Linked DNA regions of Homo sapiens: regions 1 and 2 are each linked to region 3. Evidence: fine-mapped expression QTL. A gene starts in region 3. Each other region holds a variant in brackets. All regions are shown on one strand. Distances are from middle to middle.

What was found. PIP is the estimated chance that this variant, and not a neighbour inherited with it, causes the effect. A credible set is the group of variants that fine-mapping cannot tell apart.
Region 1: its variant is the best candidate, but not a certain one, in a credible set for the expression of WDR26 in whole blood (INTERVAL, PIP 0.65).
Region 2: its variant is the best candidate, but not a certain one, in a credible set for the expression of WDR26 in blood mononuclear cells (TOPMed, PIP 0.61).

The regions. Positions count from the first base shown.
Region 1 is chr1:224,490,503-224,500,675 of GRCh38, forward strand. It overlaps a transcript of CNIH3 not described here. Among named protein-coding and RNA genes, the nearest start is that of WDR26, 61 kb to the left of the region's middle. RefSeq lists enhancers at 7,303-7,832, 7,558-7,757, 7,833-8,364, 9,740-10,173. The variant G/A (reference allele first, on the strand shown) is at 4,622.
Region 2 is chr1:224,459,677-224,469,849 of GRCh38, forward strand. It overlaps a transcript of CNIH3 not described here. Among named protein-coding and RNA genes, the nearest start is that of WDR26, 30 kb to the left of the region's middle. The variant G/T (reference allele first, on the strand shown) is at 4,160.
Region 3 is chr1:224,432,908-224,442,785 of GRCh38, forward strand. It overlaps WDR26 (WD repeat domain 26), which reads right to left and starts at 1,890. Exons shown (of 14, transcript NM_001379403.1): 1 at 777-1,890. The coding sequence starts at 1,498. It also overlaps a transcript of CNIH3 not described here. RefSeq lists a silencer at 1,869-2,268 and an enhancer at 2,609-2,798.

The sequences.
Region 1 (10,173 bases), 58 kb after region 3:
CAAGTTCTTTTCTCGCATGCAGATTTGACCTCCTAAATTGTTTTGAGATTTTTCTGATTCCCTATAACTCATTTGAAATTTTGTTTTATTTACATCATGTATAAGAGATGTTAATACACCAATACATCCTTGTTACAGACTTCAAAAACCAGAGCCTTCTGGTTTGAGACTTAACTTGTAAATCCTCCATATCTGTAATGTACTTTTATGTGTCACATTATTTTATGGCCTGTTAAAAGAGAAACTTCAGCGGAATTAAATTTAAAGGAGTTTAACTGAGCAATGAATGATTTGCGAATCGGGCAGCTCCCAGAATCACAGCAGGTTCAGAGAGACTCCAGGGATGCCTCATGGTCAGAACAAATTTAAGACAAAAAAAAGAGAAATGACATACAGAAATTGGCAGTGAAGTACAGAAACAGCTGGATTGGCTATGGGTTGGCATTTGCCTTATTTGAACACAGTTTAAACACTTAGCAGTCTATGAGTGGTTGAAGTATGGCCACTGGGATTGGCCAAGACTCAGCTATTGTTACAGGCGCATACTCCTAAGTTAGGTTCTCAATCTTGTCTGCCTATTACAAGGTTACAGTTTGTCCACAAGTACTCAAATATAGAAATACGGAGTCCTTCTCAGGCCATATTTAGTTTGCTTTAACAGGCCCTTATTAGTGTATTTACTGAGCTGAGGAACAAAAACCATCCAGTTTGCTTCTATGAGGTTTCGTTTGTCTGAGACCCCTCCAAATTAGTCATTTTCCTAACTTGCTAGGCAATTCTTTACTATCTGTAAAGCTGATATTCCATAAACCACAGAATAAGTTCCAGGGCAGTTTTCTGGGAATGGTGTGCTGGAACCGGCTCATACTGGCTTGCAAGAACTGATTGTTAAATTTGTAGGAATTTTGTAAGCTGCTTGTTAAACATGGCCATTATGAGAAACTAAACTTTATGATATACAATTAAATAAATTATGTTTAAAACAATGGCAATAAATACTCAAAACTTATCTCTTACTAATTATTGTATGGCAGTTTATTTTTATCTATGCTCTTAAGCTTATTTGCATCTATTAAATAAATTCATTTATTTACTTTATTTTTTATTTATTTATTTTTTTTGAGACAGAGTCTCACTCTGTCACCCAGGCTGGAGTGCAGTGGCACAATCTCAGCTCACTGCAACCTCTGCCTCCCGGGTTCAAGCAATTCTCCTGCCTCAGCCTCCCAAGTAGCAGGGAACTACAGGTGCCAACCATCATGCCTGGCTAATTTTTGTATTTTTTAGTAGAGATGGGGTTTCACCATGTTGCCCAGACTGGTCTCGAACTCCTGACCTCAAGTGACTCTCCCACCTCGGCCTCCCAGAGTACTGGGATTATAGGCATGAGCCACTGCACCTGGCCCATTTATTTACTTTATTTTTATTTTTGTAGAGACAAGATCTTGCTATATTGCCCAGAGACTGTTCTTGAACTCCTGGCCTCAAATGATCCTCTTATCTTGGCCTCTCAAAGTGCTGGGACTGTGGGCATGAGCTGCTGTGCCTGGCCTCTCTGCATCTATTGCATTTATTTATTTAATGATTCTTCATCATTCAACTTGAATATTGCATCTTTATGGTGGAAATACTTTATAATGGTGTGCCATTTCATGTCTTCTCAACTCCACATTCAGTGATGTCATGTTAACATTGGCCATGACAGGAATATTTATGCCACAGAAATTGGCAAATGCAACAACACAGTGTGTTTTTTTCCTTTGCAGAGCTGGTTGTTAAACACTTACCGACACATTACTGTGTGTAGGCATTCCTCCCCAACCTGTAAAGCATAGTTCTTGTTCCTTAAAAGTGGCTTGTCATATCTAATTAAATGAGATTTGGGTCTTGGTTATTGTTGCAAATTTGATTTATTCAGTTTAATCTTACAGGAAAGAGGATGGATTTTTATTGAGCCTAAGTAAATAACCTACATGACGTAAAGGTGAAGGAACTGAATAAAAGCACTTTGAATAATATTTAACCATTGTTGCCATGGTTTTGGGTAGTTTATAGATAAAATCTATTAATATATTCTACATAATCATTATTGTTTGAAGTTTTTCCTTTCAATTTTCTAGTTTAACATATATACAAAGAATTTTAATAAGAAGATTTTATTTTGCTGATCTTGGGGTAGACAGTCTGCTTTCTTGAAGTCATCTCTTTCTGTGCTAGACATCCTGGAAGGCCTGAGTCCCCAGTATAGAGTCACAGGTGTCTGTGGTAATAACATCAGCTCCTGCTCAAAAGCCTGTGCTCCGAGTCTACCTGTTACAGTTTTTATTGCATATTTTTTTGACGTTTCTTCAAAAAGTTCCCATTTTATTTCTGAGTTTGTAACAGAGGCTTTTAGGCAAGTATGAGAGAAAAGCAGGCACCATCTGTTGATAGTAAGACTGAATGACTTTGGCTATTTTACTATAATCACCAACAATATCAGAATGGAGGACAGTGATCCATGGAATCCATTTATAAGGATTGAGTCAACGATTTCCCTGGAGAGTGAGGGCATTGACCCAGGGTCTTTAATCATCCCTTGAAATCTTGTTTTATTTGTCACCAGTTGACAAAGGTACTTTAAGCCTAGAAACAAAATTTTCCTTCTTTTTATTTTTTGTTTTTTAAAGAAATCCATTTGTTGGAAGTTATTTGGCTAGTCTTTGTATATAAACTTGATATGGTGGGTAAGTAGGGTAGGTGACTGATTCGTGTAATATATATGCGGAAATTTTAAATTTGCAGAACATAAAGGAAGTTTGCAAGTCATTTTTTGGCTTTTAAAGTTGTCTTTAGCAAACCAAAAGGTCAGGGAAACCTACCTGGGGCGCTGAACGTTTGTGTGTGTGTGTTAATAGGTGTGTTTATGATGTTTTGGGAGTGGGGTAGGGAGACCTAGTGTGCTTCTTTAAATGTAGTTTCAACCTACCCCGAGGGCTCAAGGAAGGGGTGTGATTGCTGTTAGCAAAAATTATGAAAAGTAAACACCTGGGAGTGGCAGAGAGGGGAGCAGGTGGTTTCCAGTACAGAACAAAGCACAAAGTTGAGACGTCCCAATGAGTTGCAAGGTTTATCAAAGTGACTTGTTTCAGTTACAGTAAAAAGTATTGGAATTTGGGGATGATTTGCTTTTACCATATCTTGTAGATAATTCAGGTCACTCTCATTCAGTGGTACTCCCAAAAGCACATGGGAGAAACAAAGGTAGGAATCAAGCTGTTTGTGTAGGTTGGAGGTGAGAAGAATGGCAGGGGAGAGAGTGCGATTCCTTTCTCCTCTCACGCACCTGGAGGAGACTCAATAATTTCCTCTCCAGTCTGCAAAGGACAGCCCAGAGTCCCGTCATTAACACCACTTTGTGCTTATCACTGCCACAGAACCAATCGGGTATGTAAATTTGCTGCAGTACTGCAGCATTTTAACTGACAATACACTTGAAGGTATTGATCTGATGAGAAAGGACAATGGAAGATCAGATGTGGTTCTTCAAATTAACTGCAAAATCAGTAATAATGTCTTTCAGTCTTTTAGCCTTAAAAGCCACCAGGGTCGATTTTTAAATATGTCTTATCACAGATGTCAGGTCAAAAGCTGTGGTAATATAATTTCTGAATATTTTATCAGCAGTGTTGGTATTTCACATCCCTTATTGATAAAATTGACTAAAGGAACCTTGAAACATTAGATCTTGTATAATTTTCATACAGGATTTCAGAAATCACAGAGCCTCTCAACGTGCTATCTAGTCCAAGGGAGTAGAATTAACTAATTCTGCTCACATCTTTCTCAGCATGCTGGGTCCTCTTGATTTATCCCTGTGTCCTTCTAATGCTCTCAGACCAGTAGGCCCAGAGAATGTATGTCAGGCAGAAACCAGTGCTACATCTTGTGTTCCCCCTCAGCCTACATCTTGGAAGCAGGGAGGGGAGGATGATAGAGGAGACCAGAAGAAGTAACTGATTTATCAAGCCTGCTGCCTGACAGTCCTGATTTTTGAGTTCACATTCCTGCCAAATCTTTGCTTGTGGCTGAAGCCGTGTGATAACCAGCTTGATGGTACTAAATACTGGTTTCTGTAGTTTAACTTCTATGGTTCTTTCGGGGTTCCTTTTGCAGCCACTTTATCTTAAAGACCTCTTTGGGATTCTGCCCTAATCAAAACTGAATTCCAACTTCCACAGCTCCAATAACAGGTGGCCCAGGTCAGGGCCTGGTAAAGAGAGTATTTTTGAGCCCTGAGGTGCCCACCAGATTGATTCTGAACTGGACTCATGCCCAACGCCCTCTGGATCTTTGTCTCACAAAATCAGATTATTACACTAAAGTCTCTCAGATGTTTTTGGAGGGTTGTTTTGAAAGTGGCTTGCTTTCTTCTGCCCTCTCTGCCTACCTCCACTTTCCCCTATTCAGGGGCTGCGCCTGAGCCCCCCAAGCTGCTCCTTACCTGAATCTGGAGTACAGGACAAATACACACACATGTACTCATACACGCATGCACACATGCACACACACACACTCTCTACCAGTTCATGCCTTAGAGGCCTATCAGAACTGCCCCATAGTGAGAGTAGTTCCCGTGGTA[G/A]GCAGGGGAGACCTTCCTGAGACCCCTACCTGAGACTCATCAATTTTTTGGCTGTTCAATGAGCCTCCTCATGTAAGGACTTGAGACTACCTCACACAATGAGCCCAGTCCTGATCCCAGCCCCCTTCTCTCCCATGCCAAGGTATTGTCCTTCCTATGGCAGAAGGAGAGGGTCCCAGGACATGCCTTGTATATACCTTGAGTTTTGTCAATCCAATATGATTTTTTACTACAAGATCAATGGGAAGGTCTTGTATCCTTAACTACTTAAAAATTGGACTTGTTTCCTTCCTGGAAAAAAACGATGAATTCATTCGTTCATCAAATATTTATTGCCCTGCTAGGTGTCAGGCTAGGTGCTGGGGATACAAAGCTGAGCCAAAATAGTCTCTACTTTAATGGAGTGTTTGTGTAGCTGGGCATCAATATGAATGAATCACTCCATAGATGCAGTCTTACAGCAGTGGTGTCACAAAGACGCTGATGCAGCTGTGAGGGCTTAGAGGAGAGGATTTTACTGCTCCAAGGGGTCCTCCTGGAGGAAGTGATGCTGAGCTGAGATCCCAGGAGGAATGGGCATTCACCAGGGGAAGGGCATTTGCTATTGGAGAGAAGTGGCTGGAGGAGGGGGTCGGGGAGCAGCAGTCCATGTGCAAACTCTCTGGGCAAGAGGAGCGGGCTGAGTGTGGGCATCATGGCTCACTCCTATAATCCCATCACTTTGGGAGACTGAGGCAAGAGGAACCCTTGAGGCCAAGAGTTTGAGATCAGCCTGTGAACACAGTGAGACCCCATCTCTGCAAAACACAACAATGAAAAAGGCATCTGTGAGCTATCCGTGGGCAGAGAGAGCGCAACTAAGCAGTAAGATATGCTCTTTTCATGTGGAGTGAAACATAATCTGGGAAGTGAAAAATTATTCAAGATCTCATGTAGTGGCAGAGACTCAGCCCCTTGTCCTCCCAGCTGCACGAGTCTGTTGTCTCAGCCTCTCTGCCAGCCCAGCAGTTACTGAACAACTACATGTCGTTCTCAATACCCTAGAACTTCTGCTTCCTCAGGGCTGCTGCTTGCTGCCTCCTCTCTTGTGTCTCTTGGCTTATACCAACCACCATCCACTCGAGGAGGGTCTAATTGATCCATTCCTGCCTGAGGAGACTGTGGGGAGAACTTCCATGTCTGAGCACTTTCTGTGCTGCTGGCTGTCCCGTGGGCAGATGTCAACTCCAGTCCATTCAGCTCTGGCCCACCTAACTAGTGTTGCTGATGACACCCCTTCTGCTACCACCATCGCTCCTGCTGCTGCTGGGGCCTCCATGTTAGCCTGATACTAGGAGAGCAAGAAACTGAAGCCTCCTGATTTTCTCTTCCAGGTGGTATAGCAGTATGAGCACAGGCCAAGCAAGGCTGGCCTTGAGATGAGGAGGCCAGATGGTCCCTGAATCAGGGTGGTTTCAGCATGCCCAGGAAGGTGCTGCTGCTTCACAGACAGGTAGCGACTTATACTTAAGAAATTGTTTACAGTGAACAGGATGGGTCCCTTCCCTCAAAGAGCACTCCATGCAGTTGTGGAAACAGACTCAGTGTGACGGGTACAATACTACAGGTGGCATAGGATATCATGGTGGGAATACTGCAAATCCTTATTGAAAACAGGCATATTATAAATACCTTGTAATGAATGCAATACCATAGCTGATACTCATTTCTTTTAGACTTACCTATGTTTTCAGATATATAAAAACTCTAGGAATTCCCAAGGTAATTGAAAACATATGTCCACACAAAAACTTGTACAATAATGTTCATAGCAGCGTTATTCACAATAGCTGAAAGGGGGAAGCAACTCAAGTGTTCTTTGATGGATGAATGGATAAACAAAATGTGGTATATCCATACAATGGAATATTATGCAGCCATAAAAAGGAATGAAGTACTATTATATGCTACAACATGGATGACTCTTGAAAACATGCAGTGAAAGAAGCCAGTCACAAAAAAACTACATTTTATGATTCCATTAATATGAAATGTTCAAATAGGCAAATCTATAGAGACAGAAAGTAGAGGAGTGGTTGTCAGGGAGAGAGGCATAGGGAGGAATTGGGAGTGACTGCTAATAGGTACAAGATTTCTTCCTGGGGTGATGAAAATGTTCTAGAATTAGCTAGTGGTGATGTTTGCACAACATAGTGAATATACTAAAAACCACTGAACTGTATACTTTAACAAATGATAGATTTTATGTTTACTTTAAAAAATGATAGATTTTATGTTATGTGAATGATATGTTGATTTTTAAAGTCTAGGAATTAATCAATTATACTGTGATGGAATATGATATTTTAAGTCAGAAATTTACTTGTGGCATCATCTTCACTGTTCATCTGTAGAATCAGGAGAAGTGATGTTTCCTAGGTTGCTGTGAAGATTAGATAAGATAATGCATATGACAGACTTAGCTGCAAGAATATGGGTTGGGAACCCTTTGTTGTTATAGATGCATTTCTAAAGCAACTTTTTTTATGTGTTGCTGTTTGTTGGAGCCCTCCAGGAGGATCTTGGCACTGAGAGAAATCCCTAAACTAGAGTCATGGCTGAAGAGTGCTGAACACTTCCTGCACTGCTGGCTGTATGGTGGTCAGATGCTCCTGACTATGACCCTGCAGTGAAGCCCGGATCTGGGCAAAACTGAGAAGTAGTTGACACTTGCATCTCTTTCCTGACTGTCTTTTCTGGCCTGGTAGTCTTTTGGGTTATAATTCAGCATCTCTTCCATCTGCATGTCTCAAGTGATTAGTATTTTCCAAAGTGAGCTCATCACATTAATCATATTAGGGTATGAGCAGCCCTTTTAAGCTGTATTTGTATCTTACAGGAAGACCAGAAAAGCTCAGAAGGAGGAAGAATCTTCAGGCACTGTGCAAAGGGAGGGCAGGGAGAGGGGGAAGTTATTCTGCAGCAGCAGTGCCTTCCTGGGCATCCTGAAACCACCCTGATTCAGGGCCCATCTGGCCTCCTCATCTCAAGGCCAGTCTTGCTTGGCCTGTGCTCACTGCTGCCACTGCAATGCCATCTGGAAGAGAAAATCAGGACAATGGCTTCAGTTTCTTGCTCTCTTAGGATTAGGCTAACATGGAGGCCCCAGCAGCCCCAGCAAAAGCAGCAGTGATGGTGGTGGCGGTAGGGGTGTCATTAGCAACACTAATGAATCACTGCTGGGCCCGGTTCTCTTCTCTGACTCAGCTTGAAACTTCTTTCAGTTAACAGGAAGCCAGTAACCAGTAAAGTCAAAAGCTTATATGCAACTCTCTGGATTGGAAACCACTGGGGTGTTTTTTAAGCTTCTATTTCTAAAATAAGAAGGGAAACCAATGGACAGAAGCTTCCCTGTCTTCTTTGATGCAGATAAACTATGTTGGTAGAGGGTGATTGTGAGCTGGGGCCCTTGTTTCTTATGAAACTAAAAAATTCTACATGAGTTTACAAAAACAGGAAGCTGGCAGTGAAAGCTATTGGAATTATGTAAATGAAACAGTCAGTTTGGAATGCAGGTGGGAGTGTGCCTGTGGGAAAGAATGGAGAATGCATCAGAACACGGGCAGCCAGGTTACCATGCGCTGCTTCAGCACAGGGGAAGATGCGGGGGGCAAGGAACCTTCACTGCCCTGGCGTCATCAGCCCAGTGCTGCAACAGTGCAGCAGAAAGGGCAGCGGGGAAAGGCGACAGGAAGAGGAATCAAGACACTTACATTGCTCTAGGAGAGATTCGCATTTTTTTGTGGATCTGAGGATGGGAGCTCTGGGAGCTCTGGAGCCTCTTCCTGTCCGCAGGCACTGCAAAGCTTTAGCACACCAGTAGCTCCCCAGAGGGCTGGGAACCCATGCCAGGACTGGCACCCGCTCCGGGAAGGGGTGCTGGGAGTGCCATGATTTAGATCAGTGATTCACAAACTTTTGGTAGTGAAGACACTCCGTTAAAGCTTATTGTTTTGGGGTTGTATCCTACTCCCCGCCTTTTAAAAATGTTAGTTAAAAATTTAAATTAAAATGGACTTTGTTTTAAAATTAAAAATTTCCTGTTGTTTGAAGCTTCTATGACAACTGGGTAGCCTTCTGAGGTATTGTAATACAGTATTAGGATTTGGACTCTCTGCTGTATACACTAAGCTCTTAAGGGTGAAGGGCAGGCCATTGGTTCTGATAAGAAGAGAGGTTGCCATAGGTATCTCTGCTTTCTTACTCTTCCCCACTCCAGGCCATGTGGACATCTGGAGATATTTGATAAAATGTCCTTTACCAGCCGAGACTCATGACTAATCAATCGTTGTTTTTGTTGGTTTGCTTCTAATCCCTCTCCCTTCCAGTCTATCTTTCATCCTGCCATCAATTTCCTAAAACAGATTTGATGTGCCACCTCCCTCCTCAACAGTTTTCAATGGGATTTCCTACTGCCTGCATAAAGTCTAATGCCTTAGAATGGGGCAAGGAAAGCCTTTCATGATTTAACCCTCTAATACCTTTCTAGTTTCAATTTTTTATAACTCTCTATTTCGGGTCATTTTTTGAACATCAAGAAACTGAAAAGCATAGCTCAACTGCCTTATACAATACACGCCGTTATTTGCTTCTGGGACAAAAGAAGTCTAGAGTCAGCTGACTGGGCACTGTGGCTCACACCTGTAATCCCAGCACTTTGGGAGGCTGAGGCAGGAGGATCGCTTGAGGCCAGGAGTTCAAGACCAGCCTGGGCAACATAGCGACATCCTATCTCTACCAAAAAAAAAAAAAGAAAAAAGAAAAGAAAAAGAAATCTAGTGTCAGAGTGGGGCTTTGGGTAAGGCTCAACAATTCCCCAAGGATCTAATTCCTTTCTTTCTTTTTTCTTTTTTCTTTTTGAGACAGGATCTTACTGTGTCTCCTAGGCTGAAGTGTAGTGGCACAATCATGGCTCACTGTAGCCTTGACCTCCTGGGCTCAAGTGATCCTCCCACCTCAGCCTCCTTAGTAGCTGGGACTACAGGCCTGCACCATCAAGCCTGACTAATTAAAACAATTTTTTTTTTTTATAGAGATAGTGTCTCCTTATGTTGCTCAGACTGGTCTCTTGAACTCCTGGTCTCAAGTCATCCTCCCACCTCAGCCTCCCAAAGTGCTGTGATTACAAACTGAGCCACTGTGCCTGGCCACAATTTCTTCCTAATTCTCATGGTCCCAAAATGGTTGCCAGCAGCCTTCATCTCATGTCTCTAAAGAAAGAATGACTTGGCTGGTGCAACAGTTCATGCCTGTAATCCCAGCACTTTGGGAGGCCGAGGCAGGCAGATAGCTTGAACTCAGGAGTTGGAAACCAGCCTGGCCAACATGACGAAACTCTATCTCTACCAAAAATACAAAAACTTAGTCAGGCTTGGTGGCATGCATCTGTGGTCCCAGCTGCTTGGGAGGCTGAGGAGGGAGGATGGCTTGAACTCAGGGGGCGGAGGTTGCAGTGAGGCGAGATTGTGCCACTGCACTCCAACCTGCTGGGCGACAGAGTGAGACAAAAAAGC
Region 2 (10,173 bases), 27 kb after region 3:
AAATATGGGGGTAGCGATGTGGAGGGCCCAGAAGTATCAGAGAGGAGAGACAGGCTGCTCTGATTGCCTTTGTAAAATGCACATTTGAGCTTGTGCAAAGCCCTGGGCCTGAGCTCAGAAAAAGCAAGGCCAGGAATGAGGCTCTTGGTTCAGTTCCCCTGCACACCCTGGGCGGGGAGGGGTTGTTAGAGTCATGGAACCCCTATTTTTTTTTTTTTTTTGACCGGGTCTTGCTTGGTCACCCAGCCAGAGTGCAGAGGTATGTGCACAGCTCACTGCAGCCTCAACTTCCTGGGCTCAAGCGATCTTCCTGCCTCAGCCCCCAGAGTTGCTGGAGCTACAGCCCCATGCCACTACACCTGTCTAACTTTTGTACTTTTTGTAGAGACAGGGTTTTGTCATATCGCCCAGGCTGCTCTCGAACTCCTGAGCTTAAGACCAGGTTGCTCAAGTGATCCACCCACGTCGGCCTCCCAGGGTGCTAGGATTACAGGCATGATCTACCCCTCCTGGTTTATCTTTCTTAAGCTTGGAGTCATCTTTTTAAAACAGCCACAATGAGGTATAATTGATATACAATACACTGCTTATATTTAAAGTGGATAATTTGATAAGTTTTGCCATATGTTTACATCTGTGAAACTGTCACCACAATCAACAGGGGGATCATATCCATCACCCACAAAAGTTTTCTTAGGCCTCTTCCCCCTGAGAAAACCCTCTCTCTGGCAGCCACTGAACTGCTTTCTGTCCCTGCAGATTCGTTTGCATTTTCTTAAGTTTTATATAAATGGAATCATAGAGTACGTGCTCTTCTTTTGTCTGTCTTCTTTCACGCAGCATAATTATTTTTTAGATTCTTGTGTCTTGTGTGTGTCAATTCTTTTCTTTTTATTGATGAATAACATTCCATTGTATGGATATACCACATCTGTACAGTTTGTTTAATCCATTCACCTGTCGATGGACATTTGGATCACTTCCAATATTTGGCTATTAAAATAAAGCTACTCTGAACATTTGTGTATGTGCCTTTGTGTTATTCTTGGGTATATATCCAGCAGTAGAATGCTAGATCATGTGGTAGGTTTTTTGGGTTTTTTTTTTTTTAGATATGTGGTCTCATTTGGTCACCCAGGCTGGAGTGCAATTGCGTGACTATGGCTCACTATGGCCTTAAACTCCTGGGCACAAACAGTCCTCCCACCTCAGCCTCCTGAGTAGCTGTGAGTAGCCGGGATTATAGGCGAGAGCCACTGCATCCAGCCAGTTGTTTTTATTATGACTTTACCCTTAATTCATTGTATATTTTATTTAAATTTAATTTTTTCTTTTTTTTTTTTTGAGATGGAGTCTCACTCTGTCACCCAGCCTGGAGTGCAGTGGGGCGAGCTCAGCTCACTGCAACCTCCACCTCCTGGGTTCAAGAAATTCTTGTGCGTTGGCTTCCCGAGTAGCTGGGACTACAGGCGCCCACCACCACACCCAGCTAATTTTTATATTTTTAGTAGAGACGGGGTTTTTCCATGTTGGCCAAGCTGGTTTCGAACACGTGACCTCAAGTGACCCACCCACCTTTGCCTCCCAAAGTGCTTGGATTACAGGCATGAGCCACTGTGCCTGGCCTCCATTGTATATTTTAAACAAAGGATGTTTAATACAGACTTATTTTTGATGCATTATACATTTTAAACAACATGAGTTTATAGCCAGTATGGCTTTTACTCCCCTTTCTTTAAGGGGAGATAAGCATACCAGTATTCTATAGAATAGTATCAGCACACAAGGCACACTTGCTTCCCTTTGCTTACCTCTGATTTAAGATCATAACTAAAAGGAATTTATTGAACCTATGGACGTATGTATTTACTTCTGAGTATATATCTCTTCCTCACATGCATATACCTTACATAAATGATTTCTTCAGTTACCATAGTGATTTAAACAGTTTTAAAACATCTTTATTAAGATTTTAACATACTACAAAATTCACCCATTTAAAATGGACACAATTCATTGGTTTTTAGTAGATTAACAAAGTTGTGCAACAACCAGCACCACAATCTAAGTTTAGAATATTTCACCCCAAAAGAAAACCCATATCAATTAGCAGTCATTTCCCATTCTCTCCTCCATATGCCTCAGTTGTAGGCCACTAATCATGTACTTTCTTTTTCTATATATTTACTTATTCTGGACATATATAAATGGAGTCATACAGTATATAGTTTTTTGTGACTGGCTTCTTTCACTTAGCACAGTGTTTTCAATGTTCATCCACGTTGTAGCATTTATCAGTACTTCTTTCCTTTTTTTTAAAAAAAAGACTTTTACTTTTTAGAGCTGTTGTAGGTTCACAGCAAAATTGAGCTGAAAGTACAGGGTGTTCTCATATACACCCTGCCCTGCTCCATGTAAACCCTCCCCCATTATCACCATCCGCACCGTTGGTGTATTTGTTACCATCAATGAACCTACATTGACATCACTATCACTCAGTCCATAGTTTACAGTAGGGTTGGTTCACTCTTACCCTAATGTAGGGTTCATGTGGTGTCGTACATTCTATGGGTTTGGACAAACCTTTAATGATGACATGTATCCACCATCGTAGTGTTGTACAGAGTAGTTTCACTGCCCTAAAAATCCTGTTATGTTTAAATTTTTTTTGTTTTTTGAAACAGTCTTGCCCTGTCACCCAGGTTGGAGTGCAGTGGCCCCATCTTGGGTCACCGCAACTTCTGCCTCCCATGCTCAAGCGACTCTCCTGTCTCAGCCTCCTGAGTAGCTGGGATTACAGGCACCCACCACCACGCCTGGCTAATTTTTGTATTTTTAGTAGAGATGGGGTTTTGCCATGTTGGCCAGGCTGGTCTCGAAATCCTGGCCTCAAGCAATCCGCCCGCCTTGGCCTCCCAAAATGCTGGGATTACAGGTGTGAACCACTAGGTCTGGACCCAATTTTTTTTTTTTTTTTTTTTTGAGATAGGGTCTCATTCTGTCACCTGGCTGAAGGGTGGTGGTGTGATCACGGCTCACCAGAGCCTCGACCTCCCAGGCTCAGGTGATCCTCCCACCTCAGCCTCCTGAGTAGCTGGGTCTGCAGGCACGCACCACCACACCTGGCTAATTTTTTGTATTTTTATTGTAGACATGGGCTGGTCTCAAAACACCTAGGCTCAAGTGATATTCCTGCCTTGGTTTCCCAAAATATGTTTAACTTTTTTTTTTTTTTTTTTTTTTTTGAGACAGTCTTGCTCTGTCACCAGGCTGGAGTGCAGTGGCACAATCTTGGCTCACTGCAACCTGCACCTCCTGGGTTCAAGCAATTCTGCCTCAGCCTCCCGAGTAGCTGGGACTACAGGCGTGTGCCACCACACCCAGCTAATTTTTGTATTTTTAGTAGAGATGGGGTTTCATCATGTTGGCCAGGATGGTCTCGATCTCTTGACCTCGTGATCCACCCGCCTCGGCCTCCCAAAGTGTTGGGATTACAGGCGTGAGGCACTGTGCCTGGCCTGTTTAACTTTTTAAGAAGCTACCAAAATGTTTTACAAAGTGCTTGTACTGTTTTCCATTCCCAATGATGTGTGAGAGTCCGGTTTCTTCATATCCTTGCTGACTCTTGGGATGGTCAGTCTTTTGTTAAAATGTTTTGTTAAAAATCCTTTGGCCATTTAAAAAATTGTGTTGTTTTCTCGTTATTAATTTTTGGAGTTATTAGCATGAATACAAGTCTTTTTTTTTTTGAGGCGGAGCTTCACTCTTGTTGCCTAGGCTGGAGTGCAATCGCACGGTCTCTGCTCACAGCAACCTCTGCCTCCCAGGTTCAAGCGATGCTTTTGCCTCAGCCTCCCGAGTAGCTGGGGTTAGGCATGTGCCACCATGCCCGGCTAATTTTGTATTTTTTAATAGAAACGAGGTTTCTCCATGTTGGTTAGGCTGGTCTCGAACTCCCAACCTCAGATGATCCGCCTGCCTCAGCCTCCCAAAGTGCTGGGATTATTGGTGTGAGCCACCGTGCCCGGCCTGATACAAGTCTTTTATCAGATATGTGCTTTGTGATGATTTTTCTCCCAGCTTATGAATTGTCCTCATTTTTTTTTTTTTTTTTTTTTTTTTTTTTTTTTTTTAGAGGGAGTCTCGCTCTGTCGCCCAG[G/T]CTGGAGTGCAGTGGCATGATCTCAGTTTACTGCAACCTCTGCCTCCTGGGTTCAAGCCATTCTCCTGCCTCAGCCTCCCGAGTAGCTGGGACTACAGGCACATGCCACCACACCTGGCTAATTTTTGTGTTTTTAGTAGAGACGGGGTTTCACCATATTGGCCAGGCTTGTCTCGAACTCCCGATCTTGTGATCCGCCCACCTCAGCCTCCCAAAGTGCTGGGATTACAGGTGTGAGCCACCGCGCTCGACCTGGATTGTCTTCATTCTTTTCGGAGTATCTTTTGAAGAGCTTAACCTTTAAATTTTGATGGAGTTCACTTTATATTTATTTTTTATGGGTTATGCTCTTGGTGTCATGTCTAAGCAATCTTTGCCCCAAGGCCACAAAATTTTTCTCCAGTGTTTTCTTCTAGAAGTTTTATAGTTTTAGGTTATTCATTTAGGTCAATGCTCTATTTTGAATTGATTTTTTTTTTGAGATGGGGTCTCTATATGTTGCCCAGGCTGTTCTTAAATTCCTAGGCTCAAGGGATCCTCCTGCCTCAGCCTCCCAGGTAGCTGGGACTACAGGCATGTGCTACTGCACCCAGCTAGTTAGTTTAATTTTTGAATAGGTAATACTTTTCCGTGCCTGGCTTTAAGCTAATTTTTATGTATGGTGTGAGTTATGGATCAAAGTTCATTTCTTTCTTTTTTGCATGTGGATATCCAATTGTTCCAGAACTATTTCTTGAAAAAACTATCCTTTCTCCATTGGATTGCCTTGGCACCTTTGTAAAAAATTAGTTCTCCATTTATGTATGGATCTATTTCTGATTTCCATATTCTGTTCCATTTATCTATTTTCCTTATTTATACCAAACCACACTGTTTTGATTCCTGTAGCTTTTAAATAAATCTTGAAGTCAGGTAGCATAAGTCTTCCAGCTGTATTCTTCTTTTTTTTAAAGATTTTATTTCATTTTATTTTATTTAAAGACAGGGTCTTGCTCTATTGCCCAGGCTGAAGTGCAGTGGTGTGATCACAGCTCACTGCAGTCATTAATTCTTGGGCTCAAGTGATATTCTCACCTCAGCCTCCCGTGTAGCTGGGCCCACAGGTGTGTACCACTAGGCCCAGTTAATTTTTTGATTTTTTGTAGAAACAGTCTCACCATGTTGCCCAGGCTGGTCTGAAACTTCTGGACTTGAGCGACCCTCCCACTTTAGCCACCTAAAGTGCTGAGATTAGAGATGTAAGCTGAGGCACCCAGCCAAGATAGTTAGAATTATCTTTTTTTTTTTTTTTGAGACGGAGTTTCGCTCTTGTTGCCCAGGCTGGAGTGCAATGGCACAATCTTGGCTCACCGCAACCTCCACCTCCTGGATTCAAGCGATTCTCCTGCCTCAGCCTCCCAGGTAGCTGGGATTACAGGCATGCACCACCACACCTGACTGATTTTGTATTTTTAGTAGAGACGGGGTTTCTCCGTGTTGGTCAGGCTGGTCTCGAACTCCCGACCTCAGGTCATCTGCCCACCTTGGCCTCCCAAAGTGCTAGGATTACCGGTGTGACCCACCATGCCTGGCTGGTTAGAATTATCTTTAACTCATCACAGTCTACCTTCAAGTTATATTGTATCACTTCACACATAACATAAGTTTACAGGAGTCTACCTTTGTTTCCCTCCTCATAGCTTTTATGCTGTTGTTGTCATACGTTTTACTTACACATTTGTTATAAACCACAGTCTATACTATTATTTTTGCTTGAACAGCCAGTTTTCTTTTTTAGATGTTTTATTTTGAAATAATTATAAACGGGATATTGCAAATAAATGTATAGAAAGGTCCTGTGCATCCTTCACCCCTCCTCCCTCAATGTTGACATTTTGCATAACTACATACCGTATCAAAACCAGGAAATTGGGCGGGTGCTGTGGCTCACGCCTGTAACCACAGCACTTTGGGAGGCTGAGGCAGGCAGATCACCTGATGTCAGGAGTTTGAGACCAGCCTGGCCAACATAGTGAAACCCCATCTCCACTAAAAATACAAAAATGAGCCGGGCATGGTGTCGGGCACCTGTAATCTCAGCTACTCGGGAGGCTGAGGCAGGAGAATCGCTTGAGCCTGGGAGGCGGAGGTTGCAGTGAGCTGAGATCTCGCCATTGCACTCCAGCCTGGGTGATGAGAATGAAACTCCTTCTCAAAAAAACACAAAAAACGAAAAACAAAAACCCAGAAATTGGCATTAGTACAATCCACAGGGTTTAGTCAGATTTTACCAGTTACACATGCACTCATTTGTGTGTGTATGTAGTTCTATGCAGTTTTATCATACATGTAGCTTTGTGTAATTGCCACCACAATCAAGATACAGACCCATTTCATCACCATAAGCCTCCCTGATGCTTTTATAGTCACATCTACCTTCTTTCTCCCCAGTCCATAACCCCAGCAGCCATTCTTCTGTTCTCCATCTTTTAATATTGTTATTCAAATACATTACGTAAATGGAATCACTTATGTAGTGTCATACAGTCTGTAGCTTTTTAAAAAAATCAATCAGCATAATTCCCTTGAGAACCAGCCAAGGCCTAATTCTATCGTAGTTTTTTCCTTTATGTTGCAGAGTAGTATCTGTGGTATGGATGTACTACAGTTTCTTCAACCATTTATACATTGAAGGACATTTGGGTGGTATCTAGTTCTTGGCTATTATAAATAGAGTTGTTATCAACATTCATGTATAGATTGCAGAGCGCATATAGGTTTTCATTTGCCTGGGATAAATGCCCAAGGGTGCAATTGCTGGGTTGTATGGTAAGTGCACTTTTAGTTTTAAAAGAAAATGCCAAAATATTTTCCAGAGTAGCTATCCCATTCTACATTCCTGCCAGCCATGTAAGAGTGATCCAGTTTTTCCCATATCCTTGCCAGAATTTGACATTTTTTATTTTATCACTCTGTTAGGCATGTAGTGATAATGCATTGTGGTTTTAATTTAGATTGCCCTAATCACTGAGGTTGAACATCTTTTTATTAGCTTGTTACCTGTATCTACTCCTCAGTGAAATGTTTTTAGTACACTTGCTAATTATATTGTTTGCTTTTCTACTGTTGAGTTTTGGAAATTCTTTATATTCTAGATACTAAATCCTTTGTTGGATATTTGGCTTGCAAATATTTTCTCCCAGTCTGTAATTTATCTTTTCATTCTCTTGAGACAGGGTTTCACTCTGTTACCCATGCTGGAGTGCAGTGGTGTGATCATGGCTCATTGCAGCCTTGACCTCCTGGGCTCAAGTGATCATCCCACCCCAGCCTCTCACGTGGCTGGGACTACAGGTGTGTGCCACCATACCCAGCTAATTTTTTCTGTTTTTTGTAGAGACATTTCTTGAACTGCTGGAAATGTTGCTGAGGCTGATCTTGAACTGCTAGACTCAAGCCATCTGCCCACCTCTGCCTCCCAAAGTGCTGTGAATACAGGCGTGAGCCACTATGCCTGGCTCTTTTCATTCTCTTAACAGGAGCTTTCACAGAGCAAAATTTTCTAATTCTTAAGAGGTCCAATTTATCAAGTTTTCCTGGATCATAGTTTTTGTTTGTTTGTTTGTTTGTTTTTGTTTTGCTCTCATTGCCTAGGCTGGAGTGCAATAGTGCGATCTCAGCTCACTGCAACCTCTGCCTCCTGGGTTCAAGCAATTCTCCTGCCTCAGCCTCCTGAGTTGCTGGGATTACAGGCAGGTGCCACCAAGCCCGGCTAATTTTTGTATTTTTAGTAGAGACGGGGTTTCACCATATTGGCCAGGCTGGTCTCGAACTCCTGACCTCAGGTGATCCACTCACTTCGACCTCCCATATTGCTGGGATTACAGGCATGAGCCACTGCGCCTGGCTGGGATCATAGTTTTGATATCAAGTTGAAGTACTGTTCTCCCAGCCGTAGGTTTTGAAGATTTCCTCCTGTTTTTTTTTTTTCCAAAAGTTTCATAGTTTTACATGGTATGTTTAAATCAATGATTCATTTTAAGTTAATTTTTGTAAAAGGTATGAGGCTCTTCTTTTTTTTTCTTGGCCTACAGACTTTTTTTTTTTCTTCACCAATTGTTGAAAGGGCCGTCCTTCCTCTATTAAATCATGTTTGTACCTTTTTTCTTTAAAAAAATCAGTTGTACATTCTTTTGTGATTCTATTGTTTCCTCTATTATATTTCATTGATCTACATATTTATTCTTCCACCAGTACTCTACTGTCTTGATTACTGAAGTTATTTAGTAAGCCTTAACATTGGGTAGAATGATTCTTCTTACAACATTCTTCTTTTTCAAAATTGTCGTAACTATTTTAGGTCCTTTACCTTTCCATATAAATTTTAGAATAAGTTATTTATATCTATAAGAAGCCTTGCTGGAATTTGGATAGGAATTATGTAAATCAATTTGGGAAAAATTGATGTTTTTAGTGTTGAGTTTTCTAAGTCATAAACACAGTATTTCTATTTATTTAGGTCTTCTGTGATTTCTTTCATCAACATTTTGTAATTTTCAGCATACAGCTCTTATACATGTTTTGTTAGATTTATAACTAAGTATTTCATTTGCTTTGTAGCAATTGTAAATGGTATTGTGTTTTCAGCTTTGGTTTCTACATGTTTGTTGATTTTTGTGTGTTGATTCTGTGTCCAGTGACCTTCCTTATTAATTTTTAAAATTGCAGTTAAAAATAGATTTATTAGGATTTTCTGTGTAGATAATTGTCATCTACAAATAGGGACAATTTTATTTCTTTCTTTCCAATCTGTCTGCATTTATTGTTTTTCTTTCTTTATTGCATAGGCTAGAACTTTCAGTACTGTGTTGAATAAGAATGATGAGAGTACGTCTGTGGTAGGAGAAGGTGGGAGCATCACTTGAGGCCAGGAGTTAAAGGCTGCAGTGAACTATGATCATGCCACTGCCACTGCACTCCAGCCTGCGTGACAGAGTGAGACCCTGTCTCAAAAAAAAAAAAAAAAAAAGAAAGAATGGTGATGCCATGTTCCTGATATTAGGGGGAAAGCATTCAGTCTTTCAGTCTTTCACCACTAATTATGCTGTTACCTGTAGTTTTTTGGTAGATGCTCTCTATCAAGTTGAGTCAGTTCCTCTCTAATCCTAGTTTGTGAAACTTTTTTTTTTTTGTGCACGTGAATGGGAACTGGATTTTGTAAAATGCTTTTTCTATATCAATATGGTCATATGACTTTTCTTCTTTTTTATTTTATTTTATTTTTTAGACAGGGTCTTGTTCTGTCACTCAGGCTGGAGTTTAGTGGTGCAATCATGGCTCACTGCAGCCTTTACTTTCTGGCGTCAAGTGATCCTCCCACCTCAGCCTCTTGAGAAGCTGGAGCTTCAGGTGCATGCCACCATGCCCAGCTAATTTTTAATTTTTTTTGTAGAGACAGGATTTTGCTATATTTCCCAGGCTGGTCTTGAACTCCTGGACTCAAATGATCCTTCCACCTTGGCCTCCCAAACTGCTGGGATTACAGGTGTGAGCCACTCTGCCCAGCCTGATTTTTCTTCTTTAGCCTGTTGATATGATGGGTTATATTGACTGATTTTCAAATATTGAACTGGCCTTGCATACCTGTAATAAGTCCAACTTGGTTATGATGTATAATTTTAAAGAATTTTTTATTATTTATTTGTTTTATAGCGACAGAGTCTTGCTCTGTCACCCAGACTGGAGCGCAGTGGTGCAAATCATAGCTAATTGTAATCTCAAACTTCAGGCTCAAGCAATCCCTCCGCCTCAGCCTCCCAAGTAGCTGGGACCACAGGCATGTGCCATCATTCCTGGCTAATTCTTTTTTGATATTGCTGAATTTAATTTATTAATATTTTGTTGAGGACTCAATTATCTCTTAAAGAGACATAAATAATAGGAAAAACATCTTACATATTTTACCTGTGTGGTAACCATTTCTGACACTCTTCATTCCTTTGGTTAGATCAATATTTCCATGTGGTATCATTTTC
Region 3 (9,878 bases):
ACCTTCACCCTATGTTAGGTATACAAGGCCACCTAAATTGTATTTGAAAACAAATGGTTCACCAGATCAGATGTCCCCTTTTCAGAGGCGATCATCTTCTTGGTATTAAACTGAGATTTCAGACTAGTTAGGGTTAGGCCTCTTGTACACACACACAAGGGCCTTTAAACGACATCAACACTGTATCTTCATTATTCGCATCAGATTTATTCAACAACCTCTTTCCAAATGATCCCAGCCCCTCCGTTCCCATAAACACTTGTAGGTGATTGTCTTTCCTGATTGGTAGTTTGCTTGGGTTGTTGTCTGCCACGGTTGGGGGTGGGGAGGTGTCCCACAAAGATGCCTCCAAGATACACTTGAAAAACAAATCCTCCAAGGTTCATTATTTCCACCAGCTCTAATCCACCCCTCCCCCAACACATACAGAAACACACTCCCGCATCTGTCTTTATTGACAGACAATTAAGCTCTGAAGGTGCGTGGGGAGAAGTCATTCTTTGGGTTTCTCCTAACCCTTCCTAACCCCTCAACGCCTGTCTCGTCTCACAATTTGTCAGACTGATTGATTTTCCCCTATTTCCTTTCAGGTCCGCTCCTCCTCCCCGGTCGCCCTGAGCCGCGTCCTCCTGTGTACTGGGTCCTGCGTGCCCAGCACTCATTCTCTTTGACCGAGCTCTTTCAAGCCCCCCTCCCCCCTCCGCCCCTTCCCCTACCCCCCTGGAGCCTCCGTCCCTCGGTCTGTCCATCACCAGCTGGCGGTAAGGGATACTTACTTGAGCCCTAAGCCATTCAAGTGCTGTCCTATTAGCCTAATGACATCCTCATCTGACTGGGAGAGCCGCTTCTTCTTCTTGAGGCTGCTGCCCAGTTCTGGGGTGGCCAAGGAAGAGGAGGCGGCGGTGGTGGCGGAGGCAGCTGCGACGGTGGCTGAGGATGCGGCGGCCGCCCCGCCGGGAACCCCGTTATTGACATTCAGGCTGTTGCTATTGTTGCTGGCGGCGGAGGGGGCGGAAGGCAGGAGCCCATTGGCGTGGGCCAGGTCCCCCGCGGACGACGACGACGAGGGGGACGACTCCCCGTTCTGGGCCGACAAGCAGGCGAGTTCCGGGGTCTGTCCCTGGCCCCCGCCGCCCCCTCCTCCTCCACCGCCGCCGCCGCCACCTCCTCCTCCTCCTCCTGCCCCATTGGCCTGCATGATGCTGCCGCTGACCAGGCTGTGGCCGCTACTTCGGTGGGGGACAGCAGCGGCGGCGGGAGGGGCAGCAGCCGGGGGAAGTCCCACCACTACCACCACGGAGGAGGAGGAGGAGGAGGAGGACGAGGACGACGAGGACGGAGGGGAGAGGCCTGCTCTGCCTGCCGAAGCCCCGGGCTCTCCTACTCCCTCCGCCGCCGAGGCTCGGGGTTTCTTCCGCGGGGGCGGGGAGGCTCCGCCGGTGTCCGAGTCGGAGGAGGAGGAAGCGGAGGCCAGAGTTTCCTCGCCGAGAGAGGCCGTGGTGGGAAGCCGGTGGGGCGAGGCGGGGGAGGGGAGGCGGGGGCCGGGGAGAGGGTCGGGGTGAGGGGGGCCGGGGAGGCGGGGAGGGGGTCAGGGTAGGAGGGTGAGGGTGAGGGTGAGAGGAGGGGGAGGAGGAGGAGGGGGAGAAGGAGGATCCGGGCCCTTTCCCCCCCCCCTCCCGGAGGCAGCTCGGGGTGCGCGGCCCGGGGGTCGCGCCGGGGGGCGCCGCGGGGCGGCTGCGGGGGCGCGGGGCCCGCCGCTGGGCTGAGCCCCGGCAGTGGCTGCGGCGGCGGCGGCGGCGGGCGGCAGCGGAGGCAGCTGCCGCCTCTGTCCTCGGATCCGCTCCGCTCTGCTCCCTGGTGTGTTGATTCTTCCCCCAGCTGCTGCCTAATGGAGTCCAGGCGCTCGCGTCACAGGAAATGCCTATACTGCCCTCCTCACTCACTTCCGGTGGCAGGTATGGAACCTATAGGGGGCCTGTCACCCAGCACGTGCATCGGGGGCTGTCCCGGGGGTCAGGGGAGGGAGGCCAGCGGGCCGGCGGGGTCCGCCCCGACCCCATCCACGACCCCGACTCCTATCCGATCCTATCCCCGGCCCCGCTCGGGCCTTTCCCCTTGCGCCCTGGCTCGGCTGGCTCGACGAGCAGTAAGTTCGTAGCCGCCCTCCGAAGCCGGGCGTGCATGGGATGGCAGAGTTGGCGTGCGTGCGTGAGTCCACCAGTGTGGCATGGGCATGTAAGGTGCGCGGAGGGACTGCACCTTCTCCATCAGGTGCAGAAGGTGAGGATGGGGCAGGGGGCTAGGAGCTTCGACAGGCAGGAACTTCCAGGCACAGGGCTGTGGTAGGCCCCTCTCAATGGTAACCAGGACCGAAATCGGGTTTCACAACCTACTTGTTTTAGGGTGGAAAAACTTGAATTTCCACAGCCAAGTGCCACACAGTTGCTGTACCCGGGGCCATCCCGGGAGCTGTGAGATAATGAGCCGGTGAGACTCTGCTCCACCCTGGGAAGGGGAGTTAGTCTAGAGGAGCATATCTTATGGGGACAAGAAGTCACAAAAAGGCTGTGTGGTGTGTAGAGAAGGGGAGGGACTCTGCTGTTGAGGCTTCACTCTTTTTTAGCACTTGCCCAGCACCTCCTTCTCTCTTCCAGCTGCCTCTTGAGTCACTGCCCAGTTTAGGGAGCAGTAACATAAACCAAACAGTTGCCTCCAAAATATGCATTCTGAGAAGGATTCAGGCACCCATTCAGATCCAGGCTTGAAATTTTTACGTGGCATGTGAGCCTTCTGTGTCATCATGACTTACCAATTTATGTGAATGTAGAAATGCAGCAACAAAGACTGGGCTGAATCTTAATCATTGGCAAATGGTGTGCATTATCCCCAAACAATTATTTTCATGTATGTGGTTGATAGCATCTATACTCAATATGTATAAAGATTTTCTCAGAAATTTAAAGTCTTTCTCTGAAGTAGTTTTCCTGTGGGGAGGGGAAAAAAAACACCTTAGTTTCTAATTAATACATCATACATCGCTGATATTTATTATAGTAATAACTGAAAGTAATTTTGAGGCCTTTGGAGACAGTTGTTTTTAAATTTGGAAATACAATAAAAAATGATGCTGATGAGAAATTAGTAAAGAATCCTGAGGTTTATGGATCCTCAGACAGGAAGAAGTAAGAGGAAGGTCAATGCAGGATCTTACAGGGATTTGGTTTTGTAGTTCTTACTGCTTAAATTTGCTTCCAGGTGGCAGCTGTAATTGCAAGGTGACTCACATACAGTGTTTATATTCACCTGAGGCCGACCTGAGTTCTAGTTGAGGTTCATAGAGCTCTGTCACTGTATCCAGCAGAGCCTGAATTACTAGATAGTTAACACCCTCAGAGAGCCCTGTTTGTATATTAACTTTAGACAACCTTATTATTAAAAGTGTTGTTTAGGCAAAATTTAATTTTTGCAAAATGGTTTATAATAATTTATTAGGCCCATAGCAACATTGAAGACTTGCTTCTGAATAAAGACTGTAGGTTTTATAAAGGAAATCAGTCACTTCATGGCAGCTACAGACAAAGCTCACACTTCATTAACAAAAGTAAAATGATGAAAAATAAATTGGATTCCATTGCTATCTAAACTCTATATTCCAGTTTTTCTAATTTTTAGGTAACCAACACTGCTCGTGTTAGAATTCTGAATTTATAAAGTCCCTTACAGAACATTTTTCTCTGTACTAAAACACAGCTTGAGAATCTGTTATCTGAACTCTGGGTCTTTAGGTCTTTCTAAAGCCAAGTTTCAGGTCTATGTGCAGATGAACAATTCTGAAATACCACTCTACACACTGAGGAACCTTCAGTAACACCACATTACCTACAGAATAAAATCCAAATTCTGTCTTGCTCACCACAGGTTGCTTTCAGTCTTTCTTTTTGGCTTCATCTCTTATTGCTCCTCTTCAGGGACCTGTCTACTGTCCGCCAAATGTACTGGCTCATTTCTCCTTGAGAGTCTTTGACTACACTCTCCCGTCTTTTCTTCACCTGTCTGATGCCAGTCAGTCTTTCAAGACTCAGCTCATTTCAAACCTCCTCAGGGGAGCCTTTCCTGACTTCCACTCTCCTAGCCGTCATTGTGGGTGTCATTTATTAGGCTCCTCAATCACGAAGGCTGCTTGTGATGTAACTTGCTAAGACCCCTTCTTCAGGTCATCAGAGAGAAGGCTTTCTAGACCTCTGTCCCCCTGATTTACCTTCCCCTTTTCACCCTCCTCCTAAAAAGGACTAAGATGGGTTTAGGAACAAAGGTCCAAGTTATCTTTTAGAAAAAAGAAATCAAGTGTGTATTTTGATACTTGATTCATTTGTATTTGCTTCTGTACTGTTTTAAATAGAGACCTGTTAAAAACGGGTCTCTATTTGACCCATCTTGTGTTAGGTTCCAAATAAGAGGTAACTTCTTGTCCTTGAAATAGCAAACAAGCCTTTTTCACATTTCTCACCTTTTTTCAGGGATGCTGTAGAATCAAATATCGAGTAGGTAGTGGAACTAATTGACCTCCAGGCCTTTCCAACTGTAAGAGGTCTGTGAACTGTATGAGACTCCCAACTAATGTATAAATTCCTTGAGGGCACGATCTGTGTATTGTTCATATAAGCCAGTATTTTTCAGCTTTTGGGTTGTGACCCATTTGTAAGTCATGGAATCCATTTAGTGGGCCATAATTTGTATTTTTAAAAATAAGGTGGCAAAGTATAAAAGCATAGAAGATATCCAAGTGAATCACTCAAAAGAGGGGTGATTATTATTTTGTGAAATTTTTGTTTCAATGACAGACACATGTCTATGCTTTACAAAGTAAAATATATTTCTTCTGTAGGCCATTGTCAAAAAAGTTTGAAAAACGTTCCTATAAGCCAGTCCAGACTAGACTAGAAGGCAACTCAAGAAATAGGTGTTGGATATATAATTAACAAATCACTAGTACTGCCCACGGCAACTATTTTTTTTTTTTTTGGAGACAGAGTTTCGCTCTGTCGCCCAGGCTGGAGTGCAGTGGCGCGATCTTGGCTCACTGCAAGCTCCGCCTCCTGGGTTCACGCCATTCTCCTGCTTCAGCCTCCCGAGTAGCTGGGACTACAGGCAACCACCACCACACCCGGCTAATTTTTTGTATTATTATTATTATTTTTAGTAGAGACGGGGTTTCACCGTGTTAGCCAAGATGGTCTCGATCTCCTGACCTCGTGATCTGCCCACCTCAGCCTCCCAAAATGCTGGGATTACAGGTGTGAGCCACCATGCTGGCCTTTTTTTTTTTTTTAAATACAGACACAGTCTCATTATGTTGCCCAGGCTGGTCTCAAACTCTTGAGCTCGAGCAATCCTCCCGTCTTGGCCTCCCAAAGTGTTAGGATTACAGGTGTGAGCTACCACTCCTGACCCCAAGACAATATCTTAACTGTAAAAATTAAACTCTACCATATTTTAAAAAGCTGAGATAGTATAAATGTTTATAATAAAACATAAAACCAACATTTCTCACAAGTCTTTGTAACTAGTAGAGACTGTAGTTGTTCTGTCCAGATATAAGTGTGGTATATCAACTTGGCACTTAGCAACATTGATATTTAATTTGTTAAATTTTTGTTAGGAAGAGGTGTTTTCAGATCTCAGGTGTCTTTGGGAAGGAATATTTTTATATTTATATCTCCAGCTTCATTCCTAGCTTTTCTTTGGAACACTAAAATTGTCCAGCTGGACTTGTTGGGCCTGGGTGGGATTGGGAGAATTCAGGAGAGCACAGTTCTTGGGCCAGAACAGTTGGTCAGCTGATTGACTCTAGGCAAGTCATTTAACTTTCGCAGCCCCTCAGGCATGTCATGTTTAAGTGGGGATAATGACATTGGCATACCTGCTTGCTAGAGTTAATGTGTGGGTCATGAGATAACGAATATAACAAATATTTGGAAAAGTACTATGTTGAAATATTTTAAAATAAAATTTAAATCCCTCTTCATTTAGAAAGGATTTGAGGCAGCTAAATGCAGAGGTGTAAGATGGTTTTTTGGTTAGGATTGTTTCTGAGCTGTGACTCTGTAGTCACTTTCTTACTCAGCCCTGCCACTCAGCTGTATTCCTCTGTAGCTCTGGGCAGACGACTCTGAACACGGCTTCATATTGGCCTTCCATGAGTGGGTGAAGGGCATAGTCATCTGGCAGTTTTACCTGCTGTTCTATGCATGTCTCTCCAGCGCTTGCTTATTTTCCCCTTCTGCAAACATTCCATTCATGCCATGGGCATTCAGTACAGTCCTGTAAGCAAGGGTAGGGGCGGCACACCAGGTGGATTTAAGCGCAAAGACAGGACGACTGCTTTGCCACAGGCGCCTTTACAGCCAGCAGTGAACAGTTAGACATATTCACCTTCCTCTAGGTGGAAAACAGTCCTCTTCTCAGTAGCCCTCTCATGTTCTTGAGACCCATTTGATATAAATAACAATGTTGCAGGAAATTTCCTGAAGGAACTGAAATGAACCATAGAAACGAGATCATTCTTTTCCTACCACACAGCTGGGATTAGACTGCTTAGTTTGTACTTGCAGCACTTTTGCAGTATGGGCCGTATTAAAAAAAAAAAACATTTAACACTCAGCTATGGGTACAAAGATAGTCACTGAAACATTATTATTTACTTTTATTTATATATTTATTTTTGAGATGGAGTCTCGCTCTGTCGCCAGGCTGGAGTGCAGTGGCGCAATCTCGGCTCACTGCAACCTCAGCCTCCCAGGTTCAAGTGATTCTCCTACCTCAGCCTCCCGAGTAGCTGGGACTACAGGCGTGCACCACCATCCCCAGGTAATTTTGGTTTTTGTTTTGTTTTGTTTTTTGAGATGGGGTCTCGCTCTGTCGCCCAGGCTGGAGTGCAGTGGCGCAATCTCGGCTCACTGCAAGCTCCGCCTCCTGGGTTCATGCCATTCTCCTGCCTCAGCCTCCAGAGTAGCTGGGACTACAGGCACCCACCACCACACCCGGCTAATTTTTTGTATTTTTAGTAGAGGCGGGGTTTCACCGTGTTAACCAGGATGGTCTCGATCTCCTGACCTCGTGATCTGCCCGCCTCGGCCTCCCAAAGTGTTGGGATTACAGGCGTGAGCCACTGCGCCCAGCCAATTTTGGTATTTTTAGTAGAGATGGGGTTTCACCATGTTGACCAGGATGGTCTCGATCTCTTGACCTCATGGTCCGCCTGCCTCGGCGTCCCAAAGTGCTGGGATTACAGGCATGGGCCACTGCACCTGGCTGCATTATTATTATTATTATTTTATTTTGAGTTAGGGTCTTGCTCTGTTGTCCAGGCTGGAGTACAGTGGTGCAGTCATAGCTCACTGCAGCCTCAACCTCCAAAGTTCAAGTGGTCTTTCTGCCCCAGCCTCTTGAGTAGCTGGAACTACAGGTGCACACCACCTGGCTAATTTTTTATTTTTTGTCTAGAGGCAGGGTCACCCTATGTTGCCAAGGCTGATCTTAACTCCTGGGCTCAAGCAATCCTCCTGCCTTTTCCTCCCAAAGTTCTGGGATTACAGACATGAGCAACTGCTTCTGGCCTGAAGCATTAAGAGCAAAAAGAAAGTGGTAATCACCATGTACTGATATGGATATAGTACCAAGATATGTTATTAAGTGAATAATGCATGTTACAAAACAGTGTGCATAATATGATGCATTTTGATAAATAAATTTATGTATATATGCACATATTGTTTTCTCTGGTAGGAAAGAAAAGCATAAACAGGGTTTCTCTTTGATGGATGGAGTGGGGTAGTGAGGGGAGAAGTTCTTATTTTTCCATTTAATACTACTCCTTGGTGTTTGAATTTTACAGCTGTATACAGTATTAAGTTTTTTTTTTTTTTTTGAGACGGAGTCTCGCTCTGTCACCCAGGCTGGAGTGCAGTGGCACGATCTCGGCTCACTGCAAGCTCTGCCTCCCGGGTTCACACCATTCTCCTGCCTCAGCCTCCCGAGTAGCTGGGACTACAGGCGTCCGCCACCATGCCCGGCTAATTTTTTGTATTTTTAGTAGAGACAGGGTTTCACCGTGTTAGCCAGGATGGTCTCAATCTCCTGACCTCATGATCCGCCCCCCTCGGCCTCCCAAAGTGTTAGGATTACAGGCGTGAGCCACCGTGCCCGGCCAGTATGAAGTATTTTTAAAAAGTGCCAAGGGGTTATTTGGGTTGTGAGATTGTATATAATTTTTCTTTCTTTTTTATTAATGTTATGCTTCTAAAGCACACGTTTTTAAAAGAACACTCAAAAAACATCAAAATGTTCATAATAAAAACATGCCAGATAAGGCAATGTTATTAAGTATATTTGACAGTAAGTATTTGTTTTTCTAAATCTCCTTCTCATTACCCATACCTCTTATATTCTCACACTGCCATCTCTGCACACACCCACCCCATCTCTCATTTGGTTAAGTTCTTCTGGGGAATAAAGGGCAAAAAGGCATTCCTATTTATTAACTTTGAAAAGTAGATAAATAATTAATAGCCCCAGGAGTCCCTGCATAGACTCTAACAACAGGCCCTTTGGGCAGTCTTCCTTCTTCTCAGTTTCGAATGTGTTGTTCATCCCTCTGACATTATGATAATCACAATAATCAATGGTAAAACACAATTATGACTGTTAACAACAAATTCTAATTATCATAAGAAAATGTTTCTGAATATGTGTATGCATCCCCTGTAGATGTAATGGACCAATAACTAGGCATTTAAAACAGAAAAATTTTAAAGACTGTAGTAGATTATTCATAAAGTTTAAAAACTTATTGAAGGGATCTCGAGGCTTCTTCAGTTAATTGTTATTTTTTAAAATTATGCTCTTTACTAAATAATACTAAATGTATAGGCAAACATGAAATATTATAATAGCCTAAATTTTAAAAAATTTATTGAATGAAAGACCATGAATGTCAGTCATTAACAACAAAAAGCAAAACAATAACTCTTAGCTTCTTGTGGCTAGTGGAGGGGTGCTTAGCCAACTCAGGACTAACAGAGTTTGGGAGATTTATTGATTCCCTTAATTTTTTTTTTTTTTTTTTTTTTTGAGACAGGGTCTTCCTTCATTGCTCAGGCAGGAGTGCAGTGGCACGATCATGGCTCACTGCACCCACCTTGAGGTGGGCTCAAGCAATCCTCCCACCTCAGCCTCCCGAGTAGCTGGGACCACAGGCATGCACTACCACACCTGGCTAACTTTTTGTAGAGACAGGGTCTCCCCATGTTGCCCAGGCTGGTCTTGAACTCCTGGGCTCAAATAATTCTCCCGCCTCAGCTTCCCAAAGTGCTGGGATTATAGGCAAGAGCCTGGCCTCTCTTACTGGGGTTTGTATCATCACACATAACAGTAGCCTTTCTCTATAAATTCCTGAAAAATAAGGATGTACATTTTCTGCTACAGCTCTGACCCCTTATTTCAGAATGTCTTTTTCTCTGTCCCCAGATTATTGACAAATACTGTGGCATAGAAGTAGATGTGTTTTTAAGATTTAGCCAGAGTGTCAACAACACTGTTCTTTTCATTTTGTTTCCTAGTGCCCAGTTGTTCCATTCTTAGCCTTTTTTTTCCCTGTGATGGCGCATGTCCACAGCAGGGCTTCTGTGATAATGAAATAATAGAGCTAACACTAGGAAGACAAGGTTGTAAGTGCTTTACATATATTGTACTCTTTTAATCTTCCCATCAACCTTATGAAGGCTGTATTTTCATTAGCCACATTTTACAGGTGAGAAACTGAAGCACAGAAAACTTGAGGTCATATAGCTGGTGCGTGGCTCCAGAGCTGTGTTCTCAAC